Linked DNA regions of Homo sapiens. The main gene of each other region encodes a partner of the protein of the gene in region 4 in a complex. Each region holds a gene or a part of one and is shown on either strand. Other genes may lie near its edges. The genes, in order: GEMIN2, PRPF8, GEMIN4 and SNRPG.

Region 1 (7,057 bases), on a different chromosome or scaffold from region 4:
TTCACTTTAAAAATGTTCTTGTTTTTCCTATTCGTATGTACAACTTTCTTTTTTTTTGAGACAGAGTTTCACTCTTGTTGCCCAGGCTGGAGTGCAATGGCGCGATCTCGGCTCACTGCAACCTCTGCCTCCCGGGTTCAAGCAATTCTCCTGTCTCAGCATCCTGAGTACCTGGAATTACAGGCATGTACCACCACACCCGGCTAATTTTGTATTTTTAATAGAGACCGGGTTTCACCATGTTGTTCAGGCTGGTCTCGAACTCCTGACCTCAAGTGATCTGCCTGCCTTAGCCTCCCAAAGTGGTGAGATTACAGGCGTGAGCCACCATGCCCGGCTGTACAACCTTTTTTCAATACAATTTCATCAGTTGTAATATCATCTTGTAGCCATCTTTTTTATTTATAATACATAATAAAATGTTTACCATGTTGTTTTTGTCCTTTTTCTTTTTTTTTTCGAGATGGAGTCTCGTTCTGTCATCCAGGCTGGAGTGCAGTGGTGCCATCTCGGCTCACTGCAACCTCTGCCTCCCAGGTTCAAGCAATCCTCCTGCCTCAGCCTCCTGAGTAGCTGGGACAACAGGCGCCCGCCACCATGCTCAGCTAATTTTTGTATTTTTAGTAGAGATGGGGGTTTCACCATGTTGGCCAGGCTGGTGTCGAACTCCTGACCTCAAGTGATCCGCCCACCTCGGCCTCCCTAAGTGCTGGGATTACAGGAGTGAGCCACCCCACTCAGCCATCCCTTGTAGTTAAATGGGATTAACAAGGGAATGTTAAGTGTCTTGTTTAGAGTATTTAATAACATTCCCTTGTTTAATCTCATTTAACAACATGGGGAAAGTTTATTAAGTATTGCAAGTAAAATGGTGACAAAGGGTATGTATATTCATCAAGGTTTTTCAGATATGATCACCAGATTGTATCCTGGAAAGGTTATACCAAATTTGTATTTCCACCAGTAGTATATACAACTTTGTTTATTCTAAGCAACATATCACTTCGGGGAAACCTAAAAAATATTAGGACAAAATTTAAATAGCAATTTATACAACACACTAAATGGGTTCCTCAGGCAAACTCAAATCAATAGTTAAGACTTTTTCTTACAGAAAAAGATTCAAATCCAGGTTTCTTTTACAAATTGTGGAATTCTTTTTCTATAAAAAAAAATTATATGTTTCAACTTGACTCAAATTTTAAGGGATACATTTACTATGTAAAGCTAGCATTTAAATTAAATATTTAATTTAAATTAAATATTCTCTACACTTGTCCCAGCTACTCAGGAGGCTGAGGCAGGAGGATTGCTTGAACTTGGGAGGCAGAGGTTGCAGTGAGCCGAGATGGCACCACTGCACTGCAGCCTGGGTGACAGAGTGAGACTCCATCTCAAAAAAAAAAAAAAAAAAAAAAAACAAACTTGTCTGCAATGAGATAAGGAGTTTGTACCTTGTACCAGGATATACATCAACTCTTTCATTGACTTTTTTTCTCCAAGACTTTCTCAATGAAGGAAGTAGTATGTTGATTTACATTCTAGTGTTTCTTATTTGACTACAAACAAGTATAGTTCAGATTATACATATGTATATACACACACACACACATATACAAATATAAATATAAATATAAATACTGGCTGGGTGCAGTGGCTCACGCCTGTAATTCCAACACTTTGAGAGGTGGAGGCGGGCAGATCACCTGAGGTCATGAGTTCAAGACCAGTCTGGCCAACATGGAGAAAGCCTGTCTCTACAAAAATACAAAAATTAGCTGGGTGTGGTGGCAGGTGCCTGTAATCCCAGCTACTTGGGAGGCTGAGGCAGGAGAATCACTTGAAACCAGGAGGTGGAGGCTGCAGTGAGCCGAGATCGCGCTACTGCACTCCAGCCTGGGCAACAGAGGGAGATTCCATGTCAAAACAAACAAATAAATAAAAAATAAATAAATACCGTAGCATCACATCAAGTACAGTCATGCATCACTTAATGAAGGGAGATATATTCTGAGAAATGCATTGTTAGGTGATTTTTGACCCTGGATGAACATCATAGAGTATACTTACACAAACCTAGATGGTATAGTCTACTATACCTAGACTATATTGCATAGCCAATTGCTCCTAGGCTACAAACCTATATAGCACATTACTATACTGAATACTGTAGGCAACTGTAACATAATGGTAAACATTTGTGCATCCAAAAAAACCATATATTTATTTCTTAAGATAGGGTCTCACTCTGTCACTCAGGCTAGAGTGCAGTGCAGTGGCACAATCATGGCTCACTGCAGCCTCAACCTCCCTGGCCTTAGGTGATCCTCCTGCCTCAGCCCTCCCTAGTAGTTGGGATTACAGGCATGAGCCACTGTGCCTGGCCAGATCTAAACATATTTAAATACTGGAAAGGAGCCGGGCTCAGTGGCTCATGCTTGTAATCCAAACAGTTTGGGAGGCCAAGGTGGGAAGAACACTTGAGCCTAGGAGTCTGAGATCAGCCTGGGGAACATGGTGAGACCTCGTCTCTATTTAAAAAACACAAAAGGCCGCACACATGGTGGCTCATGCCTGTAATTCCCAGCATTTTGGGAGGGTGAGGAGGCAGGATCATTTGGACTCAGTTCAAGACCAGCCTGGACAACACAGTGAGACCTTGTCTCTAATAAAAAAAACAAAAAACAAAAAACAAAAAAAACTGGGCGTGGCTGCATGCGCCTGTAGTCCCAGCTACTCAGGAGATTGAGGCAGGAGGATTGCTTGAGCTGGGGAGATCAAGGTTGCAGTGAGCTATGATTGTAATACTGCACCCCAGCCTGGGTAACAGAGCGAGACCTTGTCTCAAAAAAAAAAAAAAAAAAAAAAAGAAAAGAAAAAAAGAAAATGTGCAGTAAAAATACAGTATTATAATCCTATAGGAGCACCATTGTATATGTGGCCCACAGTTGACCCAAAACGTCTAATTTTTGCCTACATTATGAAAAGAAAAACATGCAATACTACCAATTCTGGAGTAAAGTCTCTTTCTCCAAACCAATTACTCAGATATTCCAAGACACTAGTTACTGTTGCCTAAAAAAAAAAAGAGGGGGTGGAGAAGAGTTGTATTAATAATAAAACATGAATTCAACATGAGTTTCATTAAGTTTATTTAGAAAGCAACTCTGATGTTAAAAATGGCCTCATTCTTTAAACTTTCAAAGAAAGCTAATTTGTTTGACTCTAATTAGTTTGATTAGGCGGCTTATCCAATGAGGCTTTTTTTTTTTTTTTTTTTTTTTTTTGAGATAGAGTCTCACTCTGTTGCCCAGGCTGGAGCGCACTGGTGCGATCTTGGCTCACTGCAACCTCCGCCTCCCGGGTTCAAGCAATTCTCCTGCCTCAGCCCCCTGAGTAGCTGAGATTACATGCGTGCACCACCACGTCCGGCTAATTTTTGTATTTTTAGTAGAGACAGGGTTTCTGCATGTTGGTCAGGCTGGTCGAACTCTCGACCTCAGGTGATCCGCCCTCCTCGGCCTCCCAAAGTGCTGCGATCACAGGTGTGAGGCACCGCGCCTAGCCCCAGTGAGGCTTTTAAAACAAATATTTTCACACTTTCAAATATCAACTAACACCTTGGTTTAAATCCTAGGATTTAGTTTGTAACTATTAATAATTTAGTTTGTAACTACTTGAAAGACTTCACAAGGTTAAAAGAAAATGTATTTGTGGCCAGGCTCAGTGGCTCTTGCCAGTAATCTCAGCACTTTGGGAGGCCGAGGCAGGTGGATCACTTGATGTCAGTTTGAGACCAGCCAGGCCAACATGGTGAAACCCCATCTCTACTAAAAATACAAAAATTAGCCGGGCATGGTGGTGAGTGAATGCAGTCCCAGCTACTAGGGAGGCTGAGGCCGGGGAATCCCTTGAACCTGGGAGGCAGAGGTTGCAGTGAGCCAGGATTTTGCCACTGCACTCCAGCCTGGGCAACAGAGTGAGACTCTGTCTCAAAAAAAAAAAAAAAAAAAAAAAACAATGGCACACCTGAGGTCAGGAGTTTGAGACCAGCCTGGCCAACACGGCAAAACCCCGTCTCTACTAAAAATACAAAAATTAGCCAGGCATGGTGGCGGGGTCTGTAATCCTAGCTACTCGGGAGGCTGAGACAGGAGAACTGCTTGAACCCAGGAGGCAGAGGTTGCAGTGAGCTGAGATCCTGCCGCTTCAGTACAGCCTGGGCAAAAGGCGAAACTCTGTCTCAAAAAAAAAAAAAAAAAAAGATGTATTTGTAAAAATACCATCAGTTGGCCAGGCGCGGTGGGCTCATGCCTATAATCCCAGCACTTTGGGAGGCTGAGGCGGGTGGATCACAAGGTCGGGAGACAAAGACCATCCTGGCCAACACGGTAAACCCCATCCCTGCTAAAATACAAAAAATTAGCTGGGTGTGATGGTGTGCGCCTGTAGTCCTAGCTACTAGGGAGGCTGAGGCAGGGGAATTGCTTGAACCTGGGAGGTGGAGGTTGCAGTGAGCCAAGATTGTGCCACTGCACTCCAGCCTGGCGACAGAGCGAGACTCCCTCTCAAAAAACAAAACAAAACAAAACAAAACAAAAAAACCATCAGTTTATTTCTAAATTCAAATTAAATCAAAGTACAAATCTGAATAAAAATTTAGGTGGAGAAAAATCTGTTCTTAAACTATACAGATGGATTTATCAAACTCTTGAAAATAATCTCTGGTTTATTCAAATACAGTTGATGGTTACAACAAAAATGACACTGATGGAATTTAGTATGACTGCTACAATATCTTAATGCAAATGATTAAGTAACACTGTCAGCTTGTGTATTATTTCCAAGAGAATATCACCCACAAAAAAAATTGTTGGCTGGGCCCAGTGGTTCACACCTGTATTCCCAGCACTTTGGGAGGCTGAGGTGGGAGGATCGCTTGAGCTCAGGAGTTCCAGACCAGCCTGGACAACACAGTGAGACCTTGTCTCTACCAAAAATAAACAAAATTAGCCAGGCATGGTAGCACATGCCTGTGGTCCCAGCTACCAGGAGGCTGAGGTGGGAGGATTGCCTGAGCCCCAAAGTACAAGACTGCAGTGAGCCAAGATCACATCACTGTACTCCAGCATGGGCAAGAGAATGAGACCCTGCCAAAAAAAAAAAAAAAGGCTTCCAAAGGTACCCAATGCTATGTGAAGATAAAATTAAATTTTTATTTGCTTTTTAAATGAATAAGAGTCCTTACTCCTAAAAAACTGAAGAACCAAACTCCATAATTCTTCCCTTTTGATCCAAGAAATCATATATTTCAATCTTTCTTTTTTTTTTTTTTGAGACAGAGTCTCGCCCTGTCGCCCAGGCTGGAGTGCAATGGCACGATCTCGGCTCACTGCAACCTCTGCCTCCCAGGTTCAAGCGATTCTCCTGCCTCAGCCTCCCAAATAGCTGGGATTACAAGTGCACACCTCCACATCCAGCTAATTTTTGTATTTTTAGTAGAGATGGGGTTTTACCATGTTGGCCAGGCTGGTCTCGAACTCCTGACCTTGTGATCCACCTGCCTTGACCTCCCAAAGTGCCGGGATTACAGGCATAAGCCACCGCGCCCGGCCCATATTTCAATCTTAATAGAATGTATAGGACATCTAGAACTAGAAATAGCAATCTAACCTTAGTACAGATGCCCCTGAACTTGCAATGGGGTTATGTGCTGATAAACACATTGTAAAGTTGAAAATTCCTAAAATGGCTGGGCATGGTGGCTCATGCCTGTAATTCCAGCACTTTGGGAGGCCAAGGTGGGTGGATCAGTTGAGGCCAGGAGTTCGAGACCAACGTGGCCAACATGACAAAATCCTCTCTCTACTGAAAATACAAAAATTAGCCAGGCATGGTGGGAAAAAAGGAATCCTAAACTGAACCATTGTAAGTCAGGGACCTTGTATTTAATTCAAACCCCAGAATCTAAGACTTATAACTGAAAGCTACAGAAATGAATACTCTAGCACCATGATTAAGACAGAGCATGAGCTCTGGAGTTAGATCTACCTGGCACTGAATCTCAGTACTGCCATTTACTTGCTGAAAAACCACCTGCAAGTTACTTAACCTCAAATGCTGTTTCCTCATCTATAAAAAGTAGTTATCAATAATAACTCTCCATAGAGGGTTGTAGTAAGGATTAAATAAGAACCATTAAAGAGCTTAGGACAAAGTCTTGCATACTGTAAGAATTCAGTATATGTATTAACAATTCAAATACTTTCACACACAATGCAAACAAAAGAATGCATATATCTCTATTATTAATTTTACCTGATTCATTCTGCTAACAATACTAAGCAAGGGAGGAAAACCAATCTGAAAGAAAAAATGAGACTGAATTTTACTAAATGGTATTATAAGCTTCATTTTTTTTTTTCAAACTGGTGAATTTCTTGCCACACTGTTGTTTAGAAACAAAGAACAAATAAAAGAAAATTCTTTCATTGTCCATAACAATGAGACATTCCGGAAACTACTATGTTTGTAATGCGGAAGAAAATAACGCCTTAAATTTTGAATATGTAATTTTTTTTTTAGATGGGGTCTCACTCTGTCACCCAGGCTGGAGTGTAGTGGCGCGATCTTGGCTCACTGCAACCTCTGCTTCCTGGGCTCAGGTGATGCTCCCACCTCAGCCTCACGAGTAGCTAGGACCACAGGTGCATGTCAACACGCCCAGCTAATTTTTTTGTATTTTTGGTAGAGATGAGGTTTTGCCATGTTGCCCAGGTTGGTCTGGAACTCCTGAGCTCAAGTGATCTACCTGCCAGAGCCTCCCAAAGTGCTGTGATTACAGGCATGAGCCACCTCACCTGGTCTGAATTTGTAAATTTTTAAATAAAGTATGATTTTAGTAAGTAAAATGTTAAAGACTAAAAATTTTTTACATGATAGTACTTGAAAAAACTAACTTATTAAGTATATCCAATAAAACTGTAACATTGATAAGATGACATTAATATGTTGTATACACCATTTCAAAATCTTCAGCTAAAGCTAATATTTTCAA
Region 2 (7,057 bases), on a different chromosome or scaffold from region 4:
CTTGTTGACAGTGCGAGTCTGTGTTGCCGTCAGCTGCGATTGTTCCTTGGTCTGCTTCTCGATCTCAGCGATCTGCTGCCGCTGCTGTGACGGTGCCGAGATCTCCATACCCAGGATGATGTCTCGAATTTCTGATTGTGTCAGTGATGCCACGTTCACACTGTGGGGATGGTGTGGGTTATATTACAAGGATCCCTTCCCCTTGGTCACTTCTGCCTCAATGGAAAGGGTGTAACTTGGTAGGACAGGACAGCCTATACTCACGCCCCAGACAATCCACAAGAGCTGCTTCTACAGGAAGTGTGAAACGGAGGTGCACTAACACTTCCAAGATTCGTCAGATCCAAGCGGGACAGCACACTGCGTGTGCACCTTCCCACTGTTTAGCATCCATAAACCCTACGCTTCCTTGACCAAAACAATGCTCTGGCATGGAACTGTTCTCAGAAATGGAAACCCCAGAAACCCTAGAATACTGGTTCTTAATCAGAGGTGGTATTGTCCGTCACCCTATGGATAATTTTGGTTGCCACGATGACAGGGAGGGAGACGAGGGGAGGAAGGTGTGTGTGTGTGTTGGCAGCAGTCTCGGATACTTAGGGTCTCGGATGTTCAAAATTCTTCCCATGTATGGACAGTAAAGAAATGCCCTGTTTGAAATGGCAACAGTGAGAAACAATGGCCAAGAGTCAGACTGAAGCCCTAAAACAGGGATGCTTCCCATACTATTCGAAGACACTGCTGTATCTCTCTTCCTCGAGACTCTGTAAGATAATTTCTTTCCTTGTTTTCAAGACAAGAGTCTCGCTCTGTTACCCAGGCTGGAGTACAGTGGCATCATCATGGCTCACTGCAGCCTCAAACCCCCGGGCTCAAGCAAGCCTCCTGCCTCAGCCTCCAAGAAGCTGGGACTACAAGCGTGTACCACCACACCTGTTTTAAATTTTTTTTTTTTGGTAGAGATGGCGTCAGTCTCTTGTTGATCAGGCTGGTTTCAACTCCTGGCTCATGCAATCCTCCCACCTTGGCCTCCCAAAGTGCTGGTATTACTAGCATGAGCACTCAAGCCTGGCTAAGACAAGATAATTTCTTGAGAAACGTCTTTTTTTTTTTTTTTTTTGGAGACAGTCTCACTCTTGTCGCCCAGGCTGGAGTGCAGTGGCATGATCTCGGCTCACTGCAACCTCTGCCCCCAGGTTCAAGCAATTCTCCTGCCTCAGCCTCCCGAGTAGCTGGGATTACAGGTAGGCGCCATCGCACCCGGCTAACTTTTGTATTTTTAGTAGAGACGGAGTTTCACCACGTTGGCCAGGATGGTTTCAAACTCCTGACCTCAAATGATCTACCCACCTTGGCCTCCCAAAGTGCTGGGATTACAGGCATGAGCCACCGCGCCTGGCCTTCTTGAGAAACTTCTAAGCCTAAGTGCTTCCAAAAAACCCCAGAAAACCGTATATAGACCTCCTGTCTGTGTCCCCACCAGCACTGCTCACTTGTTTTTCTTGCCGTAGTCAGCCAAGATCAGATCCTTGAGCTGCACCTCGACCTTGATCCATTCTTCGTCAGTCAGAGTGGGCCAGATGTGGTGTGGTTCTGTAATAGTAGTCTTGTCTGGCTTCAGGATCACTTTTGCCCGATCGTTGTTCACATGTAGGGCACGCAGAATCAGGATGAGACGGGAGAAGGCCTGGGAAAAGATTTGGAAGAGTGGGGTAGGTCAGCTGCTTGAGGCTCTCCCACTTTAATCCTAACCTTTCATGAAACCCAAGAATTTTTTTTTTTTCTTTTGAGACAGAGTCTTGCTCTGTCGCCCAGGCTGGAGTGCAGTGGCATGATCTCGGCTCACTGCAAGCTCCGCCTCCCAGGTTCATACCATTCTCCTGCCTCAGCCTCCCGAATAGCTGGGATGACAGGCACCTGCCACCACGCCCGGCTAATTTTTTGTATTTTTAGTAGAGATGGGGTTTCACTGTGTTAGCCAGGATGGTCTCAATCTCCTGACCTCGTGATCCGCCGCCTCGGCCTCCCAAAGTGCTGGGATTACAGGCGTGAGCCACTGCGCCCGGCCTTTTTTTTTTTTTTTTTAGACAGTCTTACTCTGTCGCCCAGGCTGGAGTGCAATGGTGCCATCTCGGCTCACTGCAACCTCTGCCTCCTGGGTTCCAGTGATTCTGGTGCCTCAGCCTCCCGAGTAGCTGGGACTACAGGTGCATCCCAGCACACTCGGCTAATTTTGTTGTATTTTTAGTAGAGATGGGGTCTCGTCATGTTGGCCAGCCTGATCTCAAACTCCTGACCTCAGGTGATTCACCCAACTCAGCCTCCCAAAGTGCTGGGATTACGGGCGTGAGCCACCACGCCCGGCCCCAAGAGTTGATTTTTAACTTTAAGGTCTTAAACTCTCATGAAAGTCAACAGAGTTCCCACCCAATCTATAGGCTAAAAATGTGAAAATGGCAAAAACCTGACACAGGATCTTCTCCTAACCCTAAACCCGCTCCTCCTCCAGCGATCTTCTCTTCCCGAGGTTCATACCGTGTAAGATGAAATAGTCTTGAGCCAGTCGTCATAGAGGTTGAAGAGAACCATCTGGGGCTCAGTGGCTTTAAGGATGAGATCCCCGAATTTTTCCACCTTGAGACACGCCTGGAAAGGGAGTTGGAGCTCCGATCCTTTGATGACAATATTGGGGAAGTCCAGTAAGTGCACCTAAGACAAGATCAAGTCCAAGATGAGAAACAGCCTGAAGGTCTCAAGGTCTCTTTTCTCCTACCCCACCCCACCCTCTTACCTCCAGTGGGTCCAGCATGCCCTTCCTGGTGACAATGATCTGCTTGGGCTGCTCCTCCACAGGCAGAGATCGGATCAGGGCGGCCACCTCCTCAGCTGTCTTCCACTTAGCCAACTTAAAAGCAAGAGAGAAGAAAATGGAAATTTAGTCTCTACCCTCCCAGATCAACTAGAACAGAATATCCTAGTTTTGAAATAATCCAACTACGTTTCTATTGAACACTGATGTTAAATGTTAGGCACTTAGAAGGTACAAAGAGTATCAAATGGCCGTGTCCAATGACCAGGCTGACAGCCCCTTTCAACAAGACAATACCACAAGCTGACACATGAGTATGTGCTAAACTATACACTGTTTTACAGAGTTCAGGAACAAAAGAAATTAAGGCTACTAGGATCAGAAAAAAGCTGCACAAAAAAACGTGTCTTAAGGAGGGACTGTGATTAACAGAGCAAAGAGGGGAGTTCATTCTAGAAAGAAAAATACAAGCAAAACACAGATTTGGAGATGAGCATCAGGGGTTTGGGCTACTAAGATCCTGGACTGAATGTAAGATGAAACATGCTATAAATGTAAAGGAAGAGAAACTGGCTGGACAGATACAGCCCAGCCAGATGTTGAACGTCTAGGAAGCTAAAGAAGAGTTAATTCAGCAAGAGTTGTGAGGTAGAGAAGAGATTTGGTCAAAGTGGATGTTTCAAGAATATGCGTTGCTGGGCCGGGCACGGTGGCTCAAGCCTGTAATCCCAGCACTTTGAGAGGCCAAGGCGGGCGGATCACGAGGTCAGGAGATTGAGACCATCCTGGCCAACATGGTGAAACCCCGTCTCTACTAAAAATACAAAAAATTTAGCCGGGCGTGGTGGCGGGCACCTGTAGTCCCAGCTACTCGGGAGGCTGAGGCAGGAGAATGGCGTGAACCTGGGAGGCGGAGCTTGCAGTGAGCTGAAATCAGGCCACTGCATTCCAGCCTGGGCAACAGAGCAAGACTCCGTCTCAAAAAAAAAAAAAAAAAAAGAGAATATGCATTGCTGGCCAGGAGCAGTGGCTCACACCTGTAATCCGAGCACTTTGGGAGGCAGAGGCAGAGGCAGGCAGATCACAAAGTCAGGAGATCGAGACCATCCTGGCTAACACGTTGAAACCCTGTCTCTACTAAAAAATACAAAAAAAATTAGCCAGGCGTGGTGGCGGGCGCCTGTAGTCCCAGCTACTCGGGAGGCTAAGGCAGGAGAATGGCGTGAACCCGGGAGGCGGAGCTTGCAGTGAACCGAGATTGAGCCACTGTGCTCCAGCCTGGGCCACACAGCGAGACTCCGGCTAAAAAAAAAAAAAAAAAAAAAGAGTATGCGTTGCCTTTGGAAAAATGATTTTTGATAGCCCTGTTCAAGGTTAGAAATTCAGGAAACAGACCAGCTGGAAGGGAACGAAGCACCTCATACACTCTTGGACCTCCCACAGAATACTTCCCAAGGTATTTTGGGGATAAGTTCAAATGAGATGTTCTCAGCCTTTCATCTAATAAACCAGTAAATATTACCAAGTCCACCCCAAGAATAAGAGGCAACATGGTTCTACAGCCTCTTCATCTTTAAACCTGCTCACCTGCCCCAAACGCTTCTGTCCCGCCCACACGGACGTGTGGATTATCTTGAGGAACAGCTGCCCTGTGCGTGGGTTGAAGATGAAGATGGCTCCGTTGATGGGCTTGGTTGTCAAGTTCCCTTCAAAGGTCTAGAGGAGGACGGCATTCGTTAGCATGGCCTACACAACACATCCCCATCCTGCCTTCTTCCCAGCATGTGTACACACTTAGCCCATTACTCTCCCACAGCCATGTACAGAGTCCCGCACCTATACACTGCTGCTAACACTCACCTTGTGAATAGTCACTCTGTAGACGTTGGTGTCATCCACAAACCAGATAATCTGGTTGGAGAAGAGCTCACCATAGTTCTGAGAAGACAAATAAGGCTCAGTGGGTTCAGATGAATAGAGCTGTAGCCCCTTGCGGATCCGTTCACGTAACACATACAGGGCAGGGTTTGCCTTCATGATCTTGGCCATGGCCTGTTGTATGAGAGGCTTGCTGCCTGGGAACCAGTTTCCATAGGCACTGTGAGGATAAAAGGGTCAAGAAAAGTTAAGACGAGAATGACAGCCCCAGAAACAAGACAAGCTGCCAACTCTACAGAGGAAGAAAGACTGTTCGCCAGGCTGACAACACTCTGCTCATGTGTACATACAGGCTGGAGAAGAGAATCAGTGACCCATAGGAGGAATGGGCCACTTCCTCTCACTTAGGTAAAGTAAAAAAGTATGACTACGTTAAAGTATGGAGCTAATGGAAAATACACGGATTATTTATTTATTTATTATTATTATTATTTTTCTTTGAGATGGAGTCTCACTCTGTCGCCCAGGCTGGAGTGCAGTGGCGCAATCTCGGTTCACTGCAAGCTCCGCCTCCCGGGTTCAAGTAATTCTCCCACCTCAACCTTCTGAGTAGCTGGGACTACAGGCGTGGACCACCACGCCCAGCTAATTTTTTGTATTTTGGTAGAGACAGGGTTTCACCATGTTGCCCAGACTGGTCTCAAACTCCTGAGCTCAGACAATCTGCCCACCGCGGCCTCCCAAAGTGCTGGGATTACAGGTGTGAGCCACTGCGCCTGGCCTGAAAATACATGGTCCTGAGCCTCAACTCACCTGTGCAAGTTATAGGCCAGGTCAATGGCGATGAGTACACCTGTGGGCGAAGGGTAGATACTCATGTTGTCGGTGGTGTAGTCCAGGAACTTGGCCCGGGCGTAGCGCTCAATGTCGTGGGAATCATAGTCCCCCCAGCGCAACTGGATGTCAATCCAGTATTTCTGGGTGGTGGTGCTGTCCATCACATCCCTGAGGATGAAGAGGGTTCAAGCTTCTAAGAAACCATGGGCATAACCAATGTCCCCAGAACCAGAACCACTTAAATCCCAAAACCATCCCACCCACTCCACCAACTTGTTCCAGGTCAGCAGGACCCCAGAGAATCAGCAGATCTGACTAAGGGTGTTGACAGGCTCCAAGCGTAGCACTGGCTCCAAGTTTGAAACAAAGGCAGACAGGACAATTCCTAAAGTTGCAGGGCTAGAAGAACAGGAAAACGAAAGTGTCCTGGCTGCCTAGGGCTGGGTCCTGAGGCACTTACTTGGAGTCAGCCAGCAATGAGGGCCGGGAGACATTCCACTTATAGGAGGCAAAGAGCAGGATATCTGCACAGGAAGAGTTCATCTTATATGACTTTCGGGGATGGATTGTCTCCTTTTGTACTGTCTCAATTTCCAGTGCATCAAGTTCCTGGTCAAACACCTGAAGGAAAACATGGAGAGATTAAGACTTGTTAAGGAAGCCCAATTAAAATCAGAGTTTGTACAATAAGATAATGAGGCAATAGGAGTCTCATCCTCAGAGCTTCCAGGGTGGATTTCCCATATGCAAAAGAGCAAGCTGAGCTGACTCTGTACAGCACGCTCTCCCCGCGATTCCACCTGAGCTGACTCTGTACAGCACCCTCTCCCCGCGATTCCACCTAAGCTGACTCTGTACAGCACCCTCTCCCTGCGATTCCACCTGAGCTGACTCTCTACAGTACCCTCTCCCCACGATTCCACCTGAGCTGACTCTGTACAGTACCCTCTCCCCTCGATTCCACCTGAGCTGACTCTGTACAGTACCCTCTCCCCTCAATTCCACCTGAGCTGACTCTCTACAGTACCCTCTCCCCTCGATTCCAGCCCACCTGACATAAGTCCATAACAATGCTCTCATGGATCTTCTGCCACAAGTGAGCTCGGAAGATCTGGATGAGAGAGATCTTCAGCGTGGGGATCTTGCCGTGCATGAAGATACCCGTCAGGTCTAGCTGCACCTGAAAGCCTACATATACCTGCCAGGAAAACGACAATGTGACATTAGAGATCAAGAGACTCGGGCGCTCACGACATAACCAAGGCAAGAAGCAGCAACTGTCTTTAGCTTCCCCTCTCCAGTGTCAATCACACTCACATTGGCTCGATTAATGGTCGGGGACCACCAGAGGGTGAATCTACGATTGGGAATCTGGTTCAGTCCTGATCGCTGAGCATTAGTTAGCTTCTTCCACTTCATAGATTCCTCAAAGCCACTGGCCTTCTCCCTGGGGAGCAAGAGAAGCAGGTGAGGTGATATCCTGCCATTTCCCAGCACACTGCTAACCTCCTGGAGGTGGCTGTCTGGGAAACA
Region 3 (5,344 bases), on a different chromosome or scaffold from region 4:
ATCATTCCCTTATCCAAACCATTCATTCATCCAAATCTTGACAACCCCTCCTGAGGCAAAAGCTAACGTGACCCATCCATTCAGCACATCTCTGCTGGGTTTGCCAGGTCTCGTCTTCACAGTAGCCCCTTTGGGGGTGACTGAATAGATGGAGTTAAGACTGTATGGGAAGTGGGTGTGCTTATTGTCCCAGCTACTCAGGAGGCTGAGGTGGGAGGATCACTTGAGTCCAGGGGTTCAAGGCTAGTCTGAGCAACAAAGACTGTACACACTCCTCAATTCAGAGGGGACCCATTTTCTTGAGGTCACTAACCTAGCCCCTCGCCACTGAGTTTATCTTGGTCCTCCAATCCTCTCATTTTAGAATTGTGCAGGCCTCTCGGGCACAGCAGTCTCATGGCCAGAGGCAGAGCCAGGGCTGGACTGGATTCTTTTCCAAGCTGCTGTCCTTTCCAAGATACCTCAAGAAAAAAACATTAAAAGACGAAATAACTCTTGAAGGGGGTTATACGTACCATGTAATGCTTTTTCCACTCACATGGTTTCAACTTTGGGCTTATTTGCCAAAATCTAGGATGGAAAAGTCCAGTTATGAACATGTTCCTCCTGGCTGGATTTGATCTTGAAGACACTAAACCCAATTTCAGAGCATATTTAATCCTGGGCTATTGCTGAGGCCGACTTAGAAGAGACAAAGTGAGATGCGAAAGAGGAGAATTTTTATGATAGTTTGTACGTTACAAATACCCAAGAAACTATTTTCTTTACACCATTATTGCCATGACTTTTTGTGGACAGTTTCACATAACTGTAAAGTCCAGGCTGCTCGGGTCTGACCCCTACAGACCTGCCATGTTGAAGCCCAGCTTTTTCGCTCCCGCACAGGTAAGAAGCTGCTGATCTTCTGCAGACCCGCCATGTTGGGGCCCAGCTCCCCACGCCAAGTCAGAAGCTGCTCATCTTCTGCAACAGGGTTTGGCGCCGTTCTTCAGGGCCGATGCCCTCAGCAATGGACTTTAAGAAGCGCTGCTCGTGTGCCCTCTGGAGCAAGGAGCTGACAGAAGGGTTGGTCTTGCTCAAAGTCTCATAGCAGGTGAGGGTTTCCAAGGCTAAAACGTAGAGTGGCTCACAGACCTCCGGGTGGAGCATGGCCATGATGTGCAGAGCATGGCAGAACACCTGGGTGTAAACAAACAGGGCTTCCTGGGTCAGGTCCTGCTCTGGTCCTTGAACCCAAGGGCCAGCTGCCTGTATCGCCCTGACTGAGTCCAGGAGGCGGGTCAGACTGCCACAGAGGAGTTTGACCACGTGGTTCCAGCCTTCCAGAGGAAGCCAATCACGACAGCTATGGCTGCAGAGAAACTGGAAAGTCCTCAGGAAGAGGACGGAGAGTTGCAACTCCTGGGCAAAGGGCTTCAGGTTGAGCAGGGGAACAAACTGAATATATTCCAGGCTATAAGGGACATGGAGGAGCTGCTTCTCCAGCAGTCTCCTGGTCAGCTGGTGAAGGCGCTGCCACTCCTGAGGGCTGCACCAAGGCATGACTTGCACCAGGGCCACCAGAAAGCCTTTGCTGAACAGTCTGACCTCCTCAGGATTGCCCACGTCCACCACCAAGAGAGACAGCATCCTCTCCGAGATGCCGCTGGAGACGCAGCAGCACTCCATCCAGGCCAGGAGCCCCGTGCCAGCCCCGTACCCTGGGTGGGCCTGGGAGGTCCACTCGTCTTCTGAAAGCTTACAGATCTCAAAAAGTGTGGCTGGCACTTCACACTTGAAGTGCCCCTCGAAGAAGCTCTTCAGCCTCAGGCCCACAGTCCAGTCTAGCTGTTCTAACTTGCGGTGGAGCCAGGACAGGGACTTGATCCAGACATCCGGGGAGAAGGTCTCAGCATTGGCTGATACAATCTCACACAGGAGCTCCAGGATATGGATCGCTAGATCCTTCCTATCCAAAGAGAGGCACCGCTTCTCCTTGGGAAGCTGCCAGTATTTGCTGAAGCGGTCCAAGAGCTGGCACAAGCTGAAGAGGAGTGGAAACGGGGAGCAGGTCTGGAGCCAGTATTCCTCTCGGCACGCGTTTGCCTCTAGAGTCTGGATGAAGATCCTCAGACTGAGGTCTACCTCTTCAACATCTAACCTCAAGAAAGGCAGGACAAATTCCTTCAGCACCTCGTCTGGCTCAAGAAGAGCAGCCACTGGAATCCCTTGGGGTTTCACGGGACTCATCAGGCAGTTCAGGAGCTCTAAAAATTGCTTTTCTTCCTTGGGTGTAGAGAACTTCATCCAGACGGTTTCTTTGAGGCATGACACCATGAAAGTGGCAGATGAATTGGGACCCTGCTCTTCCACAAACCTAAGGGCAGGGAAGGCAGTGAGAATCTGGGCCAGGAACTTGTGGGTGCCGAGATTGACCACAGCCAGGCTGCACATTTTCTTCACCGTGACTTCCGGGTGCACTATGACCAGGCGGGCCACGGAGGCCACAGCTTTTGCCAAGCCCTGTTCGGAGGCACTCTGAGTGAGCTGGTTAAAAGTTGTATTGAGGTCTTCCTGAAAACCCTCCACATAAGCCAGCAACTTTTCAGAGAGGCCCTTTCGCCCCCAGGAACGCAGGATACCTGCAAGGACTTTATTTTTACCTGGCAGGGAGAGGTCTGCGTAACATTCCAGGATCAGGTGGATCACCTGCCGGATCTGAGACTCAGGGATGGCTCTGTCAGCTGTGCTGACGTCTATCACTGTTTCCAGCAGCCTCAACACCAAGTCTGGCTGTCGGAAGAGGGCCCTGTTACTCCCCAGGCAGGCTACCCACTCGTCCGAGAAGGCCCACTTCTTCTCAGAGGCAAAAATGTAGCACACTTCCATATGGCGGTCCATCTTCTGCTGGATGACGGCCATGGCAATGGAAGCTGTGATATCCTCCAAGGCCCTGTTCTTCAGCACCGTGCTCGTTTTCCTCAGGAAGTCCCTGACACACTCCGCCAGCTCAGAGACCACCTGCCTGTCCTCCTTGGACAGGCTGGTGCGGTTCAGGTAGAGCGTCGCGTTCTGGCTGAAGGAAGTCAGACTGTCGCACAGCCGGTAGCTGTCGTAACTTGTCCCCTGGCTGCTGCGGAGCACGGCCTGCAACTCCTCCCCCCACTCCCGCAGCAGGTGGTGCAGGAACTCGCAGCCCACGAAAATGGTCTCACTGGGGAGTTTGGCCAGCGAGGTCAGGCTGACATCCCGTTCTGCCTCCTTCACCTTCTCTGCCAGCGCCTGCTGGTGGTAGGGATTCTGGGTGTCCGAGTTCCACACAGAGATCACCGTGGCCAGTTTGTCCAGATACACGGTTGCAGACACCTCCTGGGGGTCGTCCTCTGTCAGCGCAAACACAGTCAGCATGTCAGCCAGGTTGGCCAGCGCACAGCACTTCCTCCCCGGGCCCAGGATCCGACTCTGGATCTGTGTCAGCCCGCGGAGCAGCATGGCCAACAGGGGCATGGTGGGGCACGCGTCTGGGTCTGACCTAAGCCTCTTTGGAGGATGGGGGAACTCATCTAAGGCAGGCAGGTACTTATGGGCCATTGCACTAAACTGGGAGAGCAGGGGGTCCTGCGGGTGACCCTTGTGCTTCATCACCTCCCACCAGACGTCCAGGAAGAAGGCCACGTCTTCGGCAGAAGTGTCAACGGTCACATGTTCCAGAAAGCGCTCTAGTTCTGCATGGCAGATGGTGGTGGGCAGGGCCATCAGGAGCTGGATAAAGAGTCCAGAAGCTTCCAGGGATTTGAGCAGCTCGAAGAGGATGGTGTGGTTGATGGTGGGGATCATGTTGCCCACCGAGAAGAACAGGTCTTCCTGCCACCGTGTCTCTGTGTCGGACGGGGTCACGGGGTGCGGCTGCAGAACCTTGGCCCAGATGATGATCAGGGCTTTCTTCTTCCAGGCAAAGGGCTGGGAGTGTGCTGCAGCCGAGGAGATCTCCCTTAAGGCCTCCACGATGGGCCGTCCAACACGTTCCCAGTCAGACTTTGTTAATTCTGCCAGTGCCTTAGGGTGGAACAGCTGCTCGGCCAGCAAGAAGCCTCCATGCAGAATAGTCATTTCTTCACAGATGTTCAAGGGTCCTGCACACAGACAAGCCAAATAAGACAGTATAGTGAAAATGTTTCCAGATGGCCACTGCTGTTAGTAGGCTGTCATGGTTTGAGATGACAAGGGTTTTAAAGGACATCAGCGGACGGGGAGAAGGGATGACTACAAGAGCCACTGCACAGCTGGAGTCAGAAGGACTTGGCCGAGGAATCCAGAATGGCTTCCGAGCTCTCCAGCCTGGGAACTGGGAGGCCACCAGGTGACATCACATACAGGGAATGGAGGAGAATCAGAGCAGGTGTGAGGAAAGATGAGTTCAGCTTTGGCCATCAAGGTACAGATGTCCTCCAGCAACGGAAATGCCAGGTGGAAGTTCAGGAGGGAAGTAAGCTGGGAAATGTGATTCTGAGAGGTATCTGCCCAGAGGGGATCACCGGAACCAAGACGGTGAATGAGATCCTTCAGGAAAAGTGTGTGAAAAGAAAAAGCTGGGCTGCTGAGGCGAGACCCTCCAGCAAAGGCTGGGCCAGCAGAGGATGTGGGGAGAGGGGTTTAGAAATAGGAGGACAGTACAAACTACAGGGGCCACTGAGCATGTACCACAGGACATGACAGCTGAGCTTCTCATGACAGATGAAGGGAGCATAGCCACAGGGTAATGGGCACAGAGCAATCACACAGCCACAGGGTAACAGGCACAGCAGCAATCACACGGCCACAGGATAATGGGCACAGAGCAATCACACAGCCACAGGGTAATGGGCACAGAGCAATCACACAGCCACAGGGTAATGGGCACAGCAGCAATCACACAGCCACAGGATAATGGGCACAGCAGCAATCACACAGCCACAGGGTAATGGGCACAGAAGCAATCACACGGCTACAGGATAATGGGCACAGAGCAATCACACAGCCACAGGATAATGGGCACAGAGCAATCACACGGCCACAGGATAATGGGCACAGAGCAATCACACGGCCACAGGGTAATGGGCACAGCAGCAATCACACGGCCACAGGGTAATGGGCACAGAGCAATCACACGGCCACAGGATAATGGGCACAGAGCAATCACACGGCCACAGGATAATGGGCACAGAGCAATCACACGGCCACAGGATAATGGGCACAGAGCAATCACACGGCCACAGGGTAATGGGCACAGAGCAATCACACGGCCACAGGGTAATGGGCACAGAGCAATCACACGGCCACAGGATAATGGGCACAGAGCAATCACACGGCCACAGGGTAATGGGCA
Region 4 (2,936 bases):
CTGCTCTTTACTACCTTATCATACTCATTGCTGATAATTGGCTGCCAGGTTCCAAGACACTTATCCTACCAATTGTGTTCCCTTCTATTCTGTCAGCTGCAGTAATCACATGTGAGTTCTTTTATTCATATTTACCAGGTTATTGAGCCCTCTGTGTGCCTGCTACTATTTTAGGCACTGGGGTTTTGCACCTAAGTCCCTGCCCTCATAAAATTTACATTTGTATGGAGAACACAATAAATCATAGCGTATGTGTAAATAAAACAAGCATGATACTGTGAGAAAAGAATAAGTTACAACTACTTTTACTCTAGCTGCCTATAAGCATAGCTCCACTTTGAATCTTTTTGGAATGCCTCCATTTCTAATAAACACCTCAAATTATTACATTACCTTTCTCTCCCCTACATTACCTATTCTTTCCCTCCCGTACCCCTCCATTCACCTATCCAATTCTACTTGACTGATGGGTGATCTATCGATTATGATGATCTCCAGTCTATTAGGGACTTACTGTTTTTAGTCCCCTAGCCTTCCAGTTTCGCTTATTTTTCTACCCCTCTTGAATTCATTTACCAGCTGATTCATCTATACTCTGATAAGTTTGTCTGTTGGTTTGTTTTGGTTTTGGTTTGTTGTTTTTTTTTTTTTTTTTTTTTTTTTTTTGACAAAAGACAGTTTCGCTCGTTGCCCAGGCTGGAGTGCAGTGGCGCTATCTTGGCTTACCGCAACCTCCGCCTCCCGGGTTCAAGTGATTTCTCCTGCCTCAGCCTCCTGAGTAGCTGGGATTACAGGCATGTGCCACCACACCCGGCTAATTTTTTATTTTTAGTAGAGATGGGGGTTTCTCCATGTTGGCCAGGATGGTCTCGAACTCCCAACCTCAGGTGATCCACCCGCCTTGGCCTCCCAAAGTGCTGGGATTATAGGCGTGAGCCACCACACCCCCGATAAATATTCTTATCTTCATTTATGGCTTATCTACTAGGTCAAGCACTGTTCTCCTAGGGCCTTTTTTTTATAACTTCTCTTTCTGCCTCTAGGTTCTGTCCTATTCAAACTTCGGCGTATTTATATAATATCTTGTTGCAGGGACACTTATGGTTGTCATTCCCCCAAGTGAAACTCTCACTGGCTCATTGTTAGTTTCTGATGTCCTCCAAACACTAAGATTGGCATTTGAAGCTTTCCAAGATTGAATGCCAACTATCTTTGTTTCCTGATTCTCTTCGTGAACTTTTTACTGCATTCAAATTAGATTACTTCCTTATCCTCTCATACTTTGTCTTCATCTTAGTTCTGTCTAGAATTTCCTACAATCTCCTTTTCAAAATTCTGCCCAATTTCCAAGACCCAGGTAAAATGTCATTTTCATAAAGCATGCCTTTCACAATTTCCCATCCTGGTTTCTTCCCTAAATGATCTCATACCTCCAAACTGTACCTAACATACTCTACTGTACATATTTTACTCATTAATTTTTGGATCCCATAGAGTCAGGGATGGGCATTTAAATTTGAGTCCTGCATTTTAGAAGGTGAAATTAGGGCCAGGCGTAGTAGCTCACGCCTGTAATCCCAGCACTTTGTGAGGCTGAGGCAAGCAGATTACTTGAGGTCAGGAGTTTGACACCAGCCTGGCCAACATGGTGAAACCCCGTCTCTACCAAAAATATAAAAATTAGCTGGGCGTGGTCAGGGCTCCTGTAATCCTAGCTACTTGGGAGGCTGAAGCAGGATTGCTTGAACCTGGGTGGCAGAGGCTGCAGTGAGCCGAGATTGCGCCACTACACTCTAGCCTGGGCAACAGAGTGAGACTGTCTCAAAAAAAAAGGTGAAATTAGTCATTGGAGACTTGGCATTAGAATCTCATAAAGCAAATTGTTAGCCTTAAATCCAAAAGATGTCTGTCGTATAAAGGGCTTAGAGTTGTTTGGTGTCCCTGTGGCTTGAACAAAGCTTTGCAAACCGACATGTAATATTAAAAAACCATTAATGATTTGGTGAAAATTCTTAAATCATCATAGTTATGTCTGTTACCTGAGTTGTTCTTTTCAAATTTATTTTTCTCTTTCTTAGGTAATACGAGGAAATAGTATCATCATGTTAGAAGCCTTGGAACGAGTATAAATAATGGCTGTTCAGCAGAGAAACCCATGTCCTCTCTCCATAGGGCCTGTTTTACTATGATGTAAAAATTAGGTCATGTACATTTTCATATTAGACTTTTTGTTAAATAAACTTTTGTAATAGTCAAAAATGCTTTCTCAGATGTTCTGAATATAGAATATCAGCTCTCATTCCAGTTTTTTCTAACATGAATTTTCCTGGTTGACATTGATTTCAAAGGGTTTTATGCATTAAAGTGAAAGAATCTTATTAAATGTGAAACATGGCAAGGATTCCTTCTGTCCATCATCTTTCAACACTGAACAGATAAAGAAGTTACAAACATGAGTGAGTTTCTTCTAAAACACTAATTTTCAAAACTTGTAAGAATAGTAACTTTGATCTAGCCTGACTTTCCCAAGTACATCTACATTCCAAATATAGTACAACAGAAGCAAAAGACAAGAAGTAATGATGTAGTTGTTTATTTTGAATATAATCATGAAGTGGGGAAAAATTTTAATACAAGAGTAGAAAGAGGATTCCAGAGAAAAACATTCCAGTGTATCATGGTTCTTTGTGAGTGAGTAGAGAGGGGTAGTGAGGATGCTGTCCACAATGTATTCATCTAGTTAATGAATTGTATGGCCCACAAGCTCAAACGAGAGATACATTACAGATGGTTGTATTATAAACCTAATCTTAAGAAACCTTACCAAGCAAATGCTTAAAGACTGATTTTTTTGTGATCTGATAAAAAGCCTGCAAATCGTGAATCACTTTTAAACTGTACAGAATGGACTACACACCAGTATGGTAAAGTTCTTG

Evidence for each region.
Region 1: SNRPG (region 4) and GEMIN2 share a complex: the UniProt entries of both Homo sapiens proteins name them as parts of the SMN-Sm complex.
Region 2: SNRPG (region 4) and PRPF8 share a complex: the UniProt entries of both Homo sapiens proteins name them as parts of the U4/U6-U5 tri-snRNP complex.
Region 3: SNRPG (region 4) and GEMIN4 share a complex: the UniProt entries of both Homo sapiens proteins name them as parts of the SMN-Sm complex.

The regions. Positions count from the first base shown.
Region 1 is NC_000014.9:39,124,298-39,131,354, reverse strand, and holds part of GEMIN2 (gem-associated protein 2), read right to left. Parts: intron 6,364-7,057; coding exon 6,319-6,363; intron 3,076-6,318; coding exon 3,007-3,075; intron 1-3,006. UniProt on the Homo sapiens protein: The SMN complex catalyzes the assembly of small nuclear ribonucleoproteins (snRNPs), the building blocks of the spliceosome, and thereby plays an important role in the splicing of cellular pre-mRNAs.
Region 2 is NC_000017.11:1,653,857-1,660,913, forward strand, and holds part of PRPF8 (pre-mRNA-processing-splicing factor 8), read right to left. Parts: intron 6,972-7,057; coding exon 6,842-6,971; intron 6,723-6,841; coding exon 6,576-6,722; intron 6,146-6,575; coding exon 5,985-6,145; intron 5,693-5,984; coding exon 5,501-5,692; intron 4,908-5,500; coding exon 4,670-4,907; intron 4,526-4,669; coding exon 4,397-4,525; intron 2,906-4,396; coding exon 2,792-2,905; intron 2,710-2,791; coding exon 2,536-2,709; intron 1,688-2,535; coding exon 1,494-1,687; intron 161-1,493; coding exon 1-160. UniProt on the Homo sapiens protein: Plays a role in pre-mRNA splicing as core component of precatalytic, catalytic and postcatalytic spliceosomal complexes, both of the predominant U2-type spliceosome and the minor U12-type spliceosome.
Region 3 is NC_000017.11:743,921-749,264, forward strand, and holds the end of GEMIN4 (gem-associated protein 4), read right to left. Parts: intron 4,113-5,344; coding exon 946-4,112; 3' UTR 501-945; downstream 1-500. UniProt on the Homo sapiens protein: The SMN complex catalyzes the assembly of small nuclear ribonucleoproteins (snRNPs), the building blocks of the spliceosome, and thereby plays an important role in the splicing of cellular pre-mRNAs.
Region 4 is NC_000002.12:70,280,827-70,283,762, reverse strand, and holds the end of SNRPG (small nuclear ribonucleoprotein G), read left to right. Parts: intron 1-2,078; coding exon 2,079-2,129; 3' UTR 2,130-2,401; downstream 2,402-2,936. UniProt on the Homo sapiens protein: Plays a role in pre-mRNA splicing as a core component of the spliceosomal U1, U2, U4 and U5 small nuclear ribonucleoproteins (snRNPs), the building blocks of the spliceosome.